Regions from separate parts of the Homo sapiens genome. Here regions 1 and 3 are each linked to region 2. Evidence: fine-mapped expression QTL. A gene starts in region 2. Each other region holds a variant in brackets. All regions are shown on one strand. Distances are between the middles of the regions.

Region 1 (2,762 bases), 130 kb before region 2:
ACAGGCTCTGTTCCTAAATGTCATGCTTTCTCAAGCTCAATGTTTCTTCCTGGGGAAGTCACTGCTCCAACACTCTGCCTTGCCACCTCTCCCCAATCTGGGATAGCCATCCCATCTCTCAGACTCTAGCTAATGACCACAGACATCTCCATCATTGCTGTGATGGAATTATTCTTTCACTTTTCTGTCTCTACCCAGTATCTGGGCTCCTTGACAGCAAAGAATGTGTTTCATATTTTATCCTCAGTGCCTAGCTAGTGTCCAGAATAGAGTGAGCATGAGGACATTCAGCGCAAAGTAGCTCTTTTTAGTCTGTGATGTAGGGACTGCTCCAATATTATTTTATCGTTGTTCATTACAACAACATGTCTTTCTGTCCACTCTCTATCTATTGACCTACCTCTCAACATTTCCAAAATAGATTTTAAGTTGCCTGGGCAACTATGGCTTGCAGGTTTGTAAGACACAGTGAGAAAGAAAGCTTTCAAAGAATACAGTCAAGAAAGCCCCATCCAGTTATTAGGCCCCGCTCCATAGCATCCTTGTGTGACAGCAGCAAGGTGTTATTGACTTCCTTTCCTTTGCTAAAAAGGAATAGCCAGGTTCTCTGACTTGGCTAGAAAGGTTTTGTGCAATGATGTTTGCAAAAGAAAACCTGAGTTTCAACCTCAGCTTTACCATCACCTAACCAAGTGGCTTTGGGCAACAACCACCTCCCTTCAATTTCCCACATGTGTAAACTGCAGATAATAAGATTGAATTCACAGTGTTGATGGAGTCAGTGCTTTTGTACTGACATGAGAAAAGTTTCCCAAAGGACTGCTGCCCCCTGCCTCCTACTTCACTAAGGACGCCCAGCAGCCTGCACTGTCAGTCCAAGCGGCCTGAGAAGGGGAGGCTCTGCTCCACAGTGACTTCACACCCAGCCAGGCTCCGCTGCATGCCGTGACACCACCAGCAAGTTCCATGAGCCATCCTTCAAAACATGAGGTAGGAAGACAACGAGTAAAAGGACATTTATCAGCACAACCAAGGAAACGTGTCTTTTTACACGAAGCCAGCATCCTCATTTTCTATGAGGGACAGCACACTGTGACGGGAACCAGATACAGTAGCTACTTAACTGCCAACAGCACACCTCCCGGCATGCAACTGGGGGTGGGAGGAGCCCATGAATAAGGATGGACCCAAAGAAGTATTCTGTGATCTACCTGGAGCAGGGGCATTTGCCACTGACAGATGTTTTTTCTTTTTTCTTTTCTTTTTTTTTTTTGGTGTGTCTGGTGTGATTTCTGTTGGAATTCTACAAGAGAATTTGGCAGCAAACCACTTATTTTCTCATGCCCTTCATTCCCTCGTCCCTCCTTAAGTCACTTTCCCTTCGTCCCCTACAGCCTTACAGGGCTTGACCCAGCATTCTGCATGTAGAAGACACTCAATGGACAATAACAGCAGCATAGACTTCCTTAGTGCTTCCTGCGAGCCAGTGCTAGTTGTATGCACTTAACAGATTTTAACTCACGCAATTCTCACACTGACCCGATGAGGTATATCATCATCCAGTTTTACAGATGGGAAATTGAGGCATAAAGGGGGCCCTCACGAA[T/A]GAATGAATTCACCAGTTCCACCTCTGGTGTCTCTAGAACTGCAAGCTAACAAACCACATAAACAACACTGGGCTTTGAGTCAGGCTGGAATAAGAGAGCCATGATTACATTCAGCATTTTCCTAATTATAAGAAACATTACATATAGAAAGTAAAAACAGAAAATTTCTCTTATCCTACTATCTAGAGATAAATCAGTGTTTATTGTTGAAATTATTTCTGTATCATTTTAAATATAGAAAGCCTTTGTTTTCTGCCGGGTGCGGTGGCTCATGCCTGTAATCCCAGCACTTTGGGAGGCCAAGGCGGGCAGATCACGAGGTCAGGAGATCGAGACCATCCTGGCTAACACAGTGAAACCCCGTCTCTACTAAAAACACAAAAAATTAGTTGGGCGTGGTGGTGGGCGCCTGTATTCCCAGCTACTCAGGAGGCTGAGGCAGGAGAATGGCATGAACCTGGGAGGCAGAGCTTGCAGTGAGCCGAGATTGTGCCACTGCACTCCATCCTGGGCGACAGAGTGAGACTCCGTCTCAAAAAAAAAAAAAAAAGAAAAAAAAGAAAGCCTTTGTTTTCTTTTGATATACATACCTTTGTTTTTTAATCCCCAAACTGGAACCACGCTGCATATCATTTTATAACATACCTCTTCTATGTATATTGTGTCTTGACATTAAGGATTTTGAAAATCTGACTTAACGTAATATGAAAGTCTAATATCTTGGGTGTTTTAATTGTTAAGATTGAGATTAATCTTCATTTACTTTTAAAAGTTAACTTTTCTAAATAATAAAGGTAATGCTCATCATTGACTACTATTAGAAAAATTTGAAAATAAGTAATTAAAGAAAACATATGAGAGCCTTCCATGTACCAAATCTTGTGTCAGGAGCTCAGGATTTAAGTGGACAAATCCTGATTCCTGGCCTCAAGGGATTTCCCAGTGGGGGGTAGACCGAGGTATGCAGAAAATCTTAATAAAGTGCAGTAAATATTTTTATAGCAAGAACCAGCTCCTTTGATCATGACCAAATCCCCACTCCTGGACTGCACTGTACCTGCAGACTCTACCTGCCTTCTTATCTAAGACCCACCATGTAACCTGTGCTCCGGATTTCATTCTGTCTTGCTATCCAAGGACTTCTTTCCTGTAGTC
Region 2 (2,762 bases):
TGGTAATTCAAAAGTTTACAGATCTTGTTTTAAACTTCAAGGTCCACTCAAGCCTTACAAAGTGTCAATAAGAGAAAAATATATTAATTGGGTAAATGTTTGTTATATCACCTTCTGAAGATAAGTTTGTTTAATATAACGTTTGGGAAATTTATTAAAGCAAAAATATTTTCTTCCTTAAAAAGTGCTATCAATTTAATGTTGTTATCTGTTGTCCTTTCAAATGTTAAATGCTTCATTTTTTTCATATCAAAGTGTGTAAAAGTTACTTATGTATTGCAATGAACATATATGTACCGCTTTATTCAATACCACACAAATATATTTGAGATTTGTGCAGCAATTCAGAAAAGAGATATGAAGTCATCTCCCTGCAAGAATATGGTCCTGCATTACATTTATCTAGAGCATAACAAAAGTAATTGTTAACAATTAATTTGTAATTATTTCTTAATGATCCTGATCGCTCATAATTTGGAGGTTGGGAATTCTACTTCTAGGATGAAACCCTGTGGCTCATAAAGTACTAGGTACAAAGTGTCATAATTTTCCCCATGCCATAATGTTTTTCTTTGAAAACAAATCAAAACAATAATAAAAGCGCTCCTGTTAGCTTGGGCTTTGCCCACAGGACAGCTGTTGTCAGTCACTACAATTTTTCAAACAGTCAGCTTGTACTTACAGCGCTTACATCTGCTGCATCCACCAGTTTAATGTGTTCCTTCGAATTTTCTGGGTTAGCAAACCTCCATTCCTGACATAGTTTTGCTCCTGGATGGGTACGCGCGGGGGCTCTCAGGCGCTCTGGTGCAGCCGCGGCGCTTCTGGGAGTGGAGCGCCTCTGCAGGGGAAAGCTCGGCGCAGGGGGCAGGCGCCTGGCCGCTGCCGCAGGCTCGGGCTGCCGAGCGACTGAGCGAAAACGTGTTCCCCAGGAAGAAACCCGCCACAGTGGACGGCAACAGGAAGGCTTAAAGTCGGAAGTGGCACTGGAGAGTTTCTACCTCGCCCCAAACTCGGAGCCATCAGCTCCCACCGTTCTGTTTGGTAACAGCTTTGCGCCCAGCGCTCCTTCCCCACCAAACAGCAGCGGCAGATAGCATCTGAGAACCCTAGACAAAGAAACAGCAGAATCTCATCCCTCGATTTGTTTGCGCAGCCTTGTAGGTCTGCCCATGGAGCCTCGGGGCTTTCTTTTTTTTTTTTTTTTTTTTTTTTTGGTTTTTGCAACGCAAACCACAGCTATTCTCTTGTCCTAACCTTATTGGTTTAAATGCAACAATTGAAAGGAGCACTGCTCTGTCTGACTCAACCTTGCTGTTTAAAAAAAAAAAAATTATGTAAATGAACGCGCCCCACGCTATCTGAATAAACAGCTGTGTGAGAATAACTTCTCTGAGACGTGGTCAACACACACGCGTCCTCTTGCAACAGTAGTTACCAATTAAGATCTTTGGGGAGTAGTTACACGTTATCTTTTACACTTTTCCTAAACTTTTTTCAGGCCCTGAAACTTAGGGAATCCACTACTTTTCATAATTTATTTCCTAACTAACGTACCTACTACTGAAACAGGTCTGGGGGAAATAAAAAACTAGAATGGCCATTTCCCTTTAAGTAGAAAATGAAAAAGCAAACGTGCAAGCTTTTATCAGTTTAATAATGAAAGCCTGAAGGATGAATCCGAAATGATTTCTAGAATGGCAAATCTTCTGTGAACAATTCCTTGGCTATGAACCAGATAATGTTTCAGTGTTAATATTTTTAAATGGTTTTTGGAAAAGATTCATGTTATCTAGAACTCTTTCTTTACAGCTTATTCTTTTAAAAAAAAATTCTTACTGACCTCGGAATCTATGCATGACAGTCTATAACACTCACCTAAAGAGCTGAGCTTCAGTTAAGATATGTTTTATACAGATACATGACTTTGGTGATAAGACTTAACCATTATGTTGATTTCAAATATTCAAAGAAGGCATCGTTTATGTGACTAATGATTGTATCTCAATTTGCCAGACCTGTGCCAACATTCAAATACAAATGTTTATTTTGATACTAGTCACTCGTTGTAACCAATTTTGTGCTCTAAAATAAAATCTTTAAGCCCATCGGATTTTTCTTAAAACTGTTTTGTCATCACCCATAGAATACTATTCTGCTGATTAGGTCTTTTATTTAAGGAAAAAAAAAGCGTCCTCATTTTTTAGGCGCTTGATAGATGTGAAAAAAATTTTAAAAATCACAATAACTTTTTGCATGACTTTATAATACATTTCCAGATCGTCAACTAATAAAACACATAGACACAATCATAACTTTATATTGCTAATATGTAAATGAAAGCACCATTCCGATGCAAACAAAAAATAAAAAGCTGCTAATGACCAAAATTTATTACAGACTTCCCCCCAACCACCGAAAGTATGCCAATCTGAATTCCTCAGAAAAGAACACTTTGTCAAACATAAACGACAGTTTAAACTGCAAACTCACCTAGGATTTCATTTTGTATAGTACCAGCAAGGAATCATGGGCTAGTCATCTACCATATTTGGGAAGCCAGGTCAAAACACAGTTGATTGCTATTGGATCTGTTCATATATGCAGCAGAAATAGAATTATGTTACCACCTACTGCACTTTCTCAGACCAGAAGTATCAGTTATTCAATATACTAAAGTATATATGCAGAAAATAAAATACAGCTTGTAATGGAGATTTCTAGCATTGTCAGATAAAATGTAATGTTGTGGTAATTCAATC
Region 3 (2,762 bases), 190 kb after region 2:
TCACAGAAATAATAATTCTCCGAAAGCAGACCCCTCCAATTTACCTCTACTTCTTTTAACTCGCCTCTTTGACTTGGACCAATCAAACCACTTTTGGCCAAAGGAAAGGCCTGGGCCAGAAAGCGCTAAAACTAAGTATCTGCCTGCCTGGGCTGCCCTCCAGATGTTTCCCATTACTGGAGCTTCGAGCTCACGCACATGTCTAAGATGGCAATCACAACATCATATCAGGCCAAGAGGACCCTCCCCTCCGTCCCCCGACGTCCCAATCAGTTACCACCTCCCCGAAGGAAAACAAACCGGCCCTTGACACATCCCTCCACGTGCAGCGCCCGACGCCACGGGCCTTGGGCGGCTGCACCTCTCCCCTGCCGGCCACGGCTCAAGGCCCCATTATTGCGCGCACCCAGCTCCCTTCCAGGTGACTTTCGCGTACCTGGCGGCGGCGCCCTAGGCCTCGGAGGCTGCCCGGGCGGGCTGGGGCTCGGGCGGCGCTCGCTGAGAGTCGCGGCGCCCCTCAGCCGCTTCCCGGGCGCCGATCGCCGCCCTCCTGCCCCGGGGTGGGGCCCAGGGGCATCAGCAGCCGCGGGCTCTCGGCCGCCGCCTGGGAACTCAGGGTCAGATTTAGTTTCACAACAACGTCTCCTCGTCACGGCAACCCAACTGGAGGCAGAAGCCGGCGGGGCGGCCGAGCGGGGCGGGGCGGGAGCGCGGCCGCCGCGAGCCACGGTGGGGAGCGGGCGCGGGGGACCCTGGCGGGCCCCGGGCAGCGCGGCTGCACTTACTTGTGTCACAACTGCGGCGACGGGGGGCTGAGGAACCGGTTCTTCCAAAAGCAAACCGAAAATGGGTAACAGAGAGGCCGGGGCAGCGCTAAGAGGGGTTCTGCCTCGGTGTTTAGGGCAAAAAACCCGGCTCCGGCTTCCAGAAATTCGAGCCAGCGGTGGCTTTTTCTTTCTTTCCTCTCTAAACGCTCCTGTGCCTCCGGGTCGAGGGGCGCCCTTCGCGCGGCTCCGAGTGCACAGCGACACCAGGGCTGGCGCTGGAGAGGGGAGCCCTCTTCCCAGCACCCCTCGGGTCTCCCCCGTACCCCCACCCACAGCCCCTTTCCTGGGCCCGACGCCCCTCCGCTCTGCAGCCGGAGCCTGGGCCTGGTGCCCACTGCCCCGCGGGGTGTCTCGGACGCCTGGCCCCTGCAGCGTTTTCTACGGAGAGGCCTCAGAAACAGAAGGAGGGGGTGGTGGGTTAGTTCTGTCACCGCGAGGAAGCTAGGTGTGCATGGGGAGGTCCTGAAGGGGAG[G/A]ATGGGTGGAGTGATTTGGTGATTTGGGGCGAGGGGCTGTAGGTTGGATGTAAAGGAATATTCAGTCAGCCTGAAACTTATTAAAACATCTGGGATTCAAATACCTTTAGAAGTGATCTTAAAGGTATGTATTCTAACTTCTTACAGATAGCGTAACTGAGGCCAAGAATGGTAAATGGATTACCCCAAAGTCGGGCAGGGGAGCCTTGACTAAATGCCCAGGCCTAACCCATTGTCCTTTCTTCTAAACTTTTTGCCTTTCTTTGCACCAAGGGACGCTTTGAGCTGGTAGGGGGAAGTTTCTGTAACCCCAAAATTCCCTTGTCTCTGTAACTTAAGGGGAGCTAGAGAACCTTGATTCGACCTGCAAAGTATTTCAGCATTGGATGAAGCATCCATTACAAGCCAGTAATCTGAGATGTTCCTTCTCCAGGATCTTCCTCTTACTTGACTGGGGAATCCAATCAGGAGCAGTGAAAGATATGCAAATACCTTGATGATTTGCTCTTATAAGGACTCATCACTTCTCAGTGAGCATCAGAATGTTGGCTCTTCTCTCCCTCAGATGAAATCCCTTCCCCATCCCCCACTCAATTGTTCACATCCAATGAGATCATGTAAGCAAAAGGGCCTTAGAAAGTAGAAAGCATAGCATGAATGCAGGTATTATTGTACATACTCTTTCAAAATTGTCTAGATTCACACACTTTACTATTGTTTCTGTCAGTCATTGAGTATTTGTTGACTTGTGCTAGATGCCATGAAGAGTCAGAACAATGAGATCTAATCCTTCACCTTCAAAGGCCACAGATTATAGATTCTGTGATAAGACCAACACACAGGAAATAATCAGAAATCTACACAAAGACTGATTTTTTTTTGGTCCTTAACTGTTGGATATTTTTATGTTTTCAGACACAGAAACTTTCCAAAATAAACCATGTATGTTGGGTGAGGGAGACTTCATGTAGAAATCAATGCATCAATAAACTGTTAACCCAATAAAACCCCAATACCTTGCCCAAATAGAAATGTTAGTTAAATTACCCAGTTGATGAGGATGGCTTTTCCTTTTTGAAAAGGAAACTACTACCTATGCTTTCTACCTATTCATAAAGAATTACTATAACATAAAAAAGCAAATCCAGAGACTTAAAGATTAGGTGATCAAAAATTTTATTTGAGGGAGGAGGGGAGAAAAAATAACCCAAAGCTACCAGATATAAGTATTTGCTAAGAACTTACCAAAGGCAATGAAAGTTTCTCATGTCAAAGATGGCAGGCATACTATCTATTTGAAAATCATATTTTAAAAATCAATTTATATAGTTCAGAAGTAACATATCACCTAAAATTTTTATGTATTAATAGAAGAATTATTTTGATACTTTATCCTAGTATTCTTAAAGTTTGAGAGAACAGTTCTCAACCCAAATATCTGACCATTTTATTTTTTTAGGGA

Alleles and levels. Positions count from the first base shown, and alleles are read on the strand shown. Sizes are in standard deviations (SD) of each study's normalised expression.
As copies of A replace T in region 1, the expression in prefrontal cortex of the gene that starts at base 1,105 in region 2 goes down (moderate effect, 0.69 SD a copy in GTEx).
As copies of A replace G in region 3, the expression in testis of the gene that starts at base 1,105 in region 2 goes up (moderate effect, 0.56 SD a copy in GTEx).

What was found. PIP is the estimated chance that this variant, and not a neighbour inherited with it, causes the effect. A credible set is the group of variants that fine-mapping cannot tell apart.
Region 1: its variant is the best candidate, but not a certain one, in a credible set for the expression of EYA1 in prefrontal cortex (GTEx, PIP 0.55).
Region 3: its variant is the best candidate, but not a certain one, in a credible set for the expression of EYA1 in testis (GTEx, PIP 0.64).

What each region holds. Positions count from the first base shown.
Region 1 is chr8:71,231,423-71,234,184 of GRCh38, forward strand. All of the region lies in intron 12 of EYA1 (EYA transcriptional coactivator and phosphatase 1), which reads right to left. Among named protein-coding and RNA genes, the nearest start is that of EYA1, 130 kb to the right of the region's middle. The variant T/A (reference allele first, on the strand shown) is at 1,607.
Region 2 is chr8:71,360,965-71,363,726 of GRCh38, forward strand. EYA1 (EYA transcriptional coactivator and phosphatase 1) reads right to left here and starts at 1,105. Exons shown (of 18, transcript NM_000503.6): 1 at 683-1,105. RefSeq lists enhancers at 512-1,033, 786-895.
Region 3 is chr8:71,547,079-71,549,840 of GRCh38, forward strand. LOC102724772 (a long non-coding RNA gene) reads left to right here and starts at 567. Exons shown (of 5, transcript XR_929035.3): 1 at 567-617; 2 at 1,734-1,830. It also overlaps a transcript of EYA1 not described here. The variant G/A (reference allele first, on the strand shown) is at 1,301.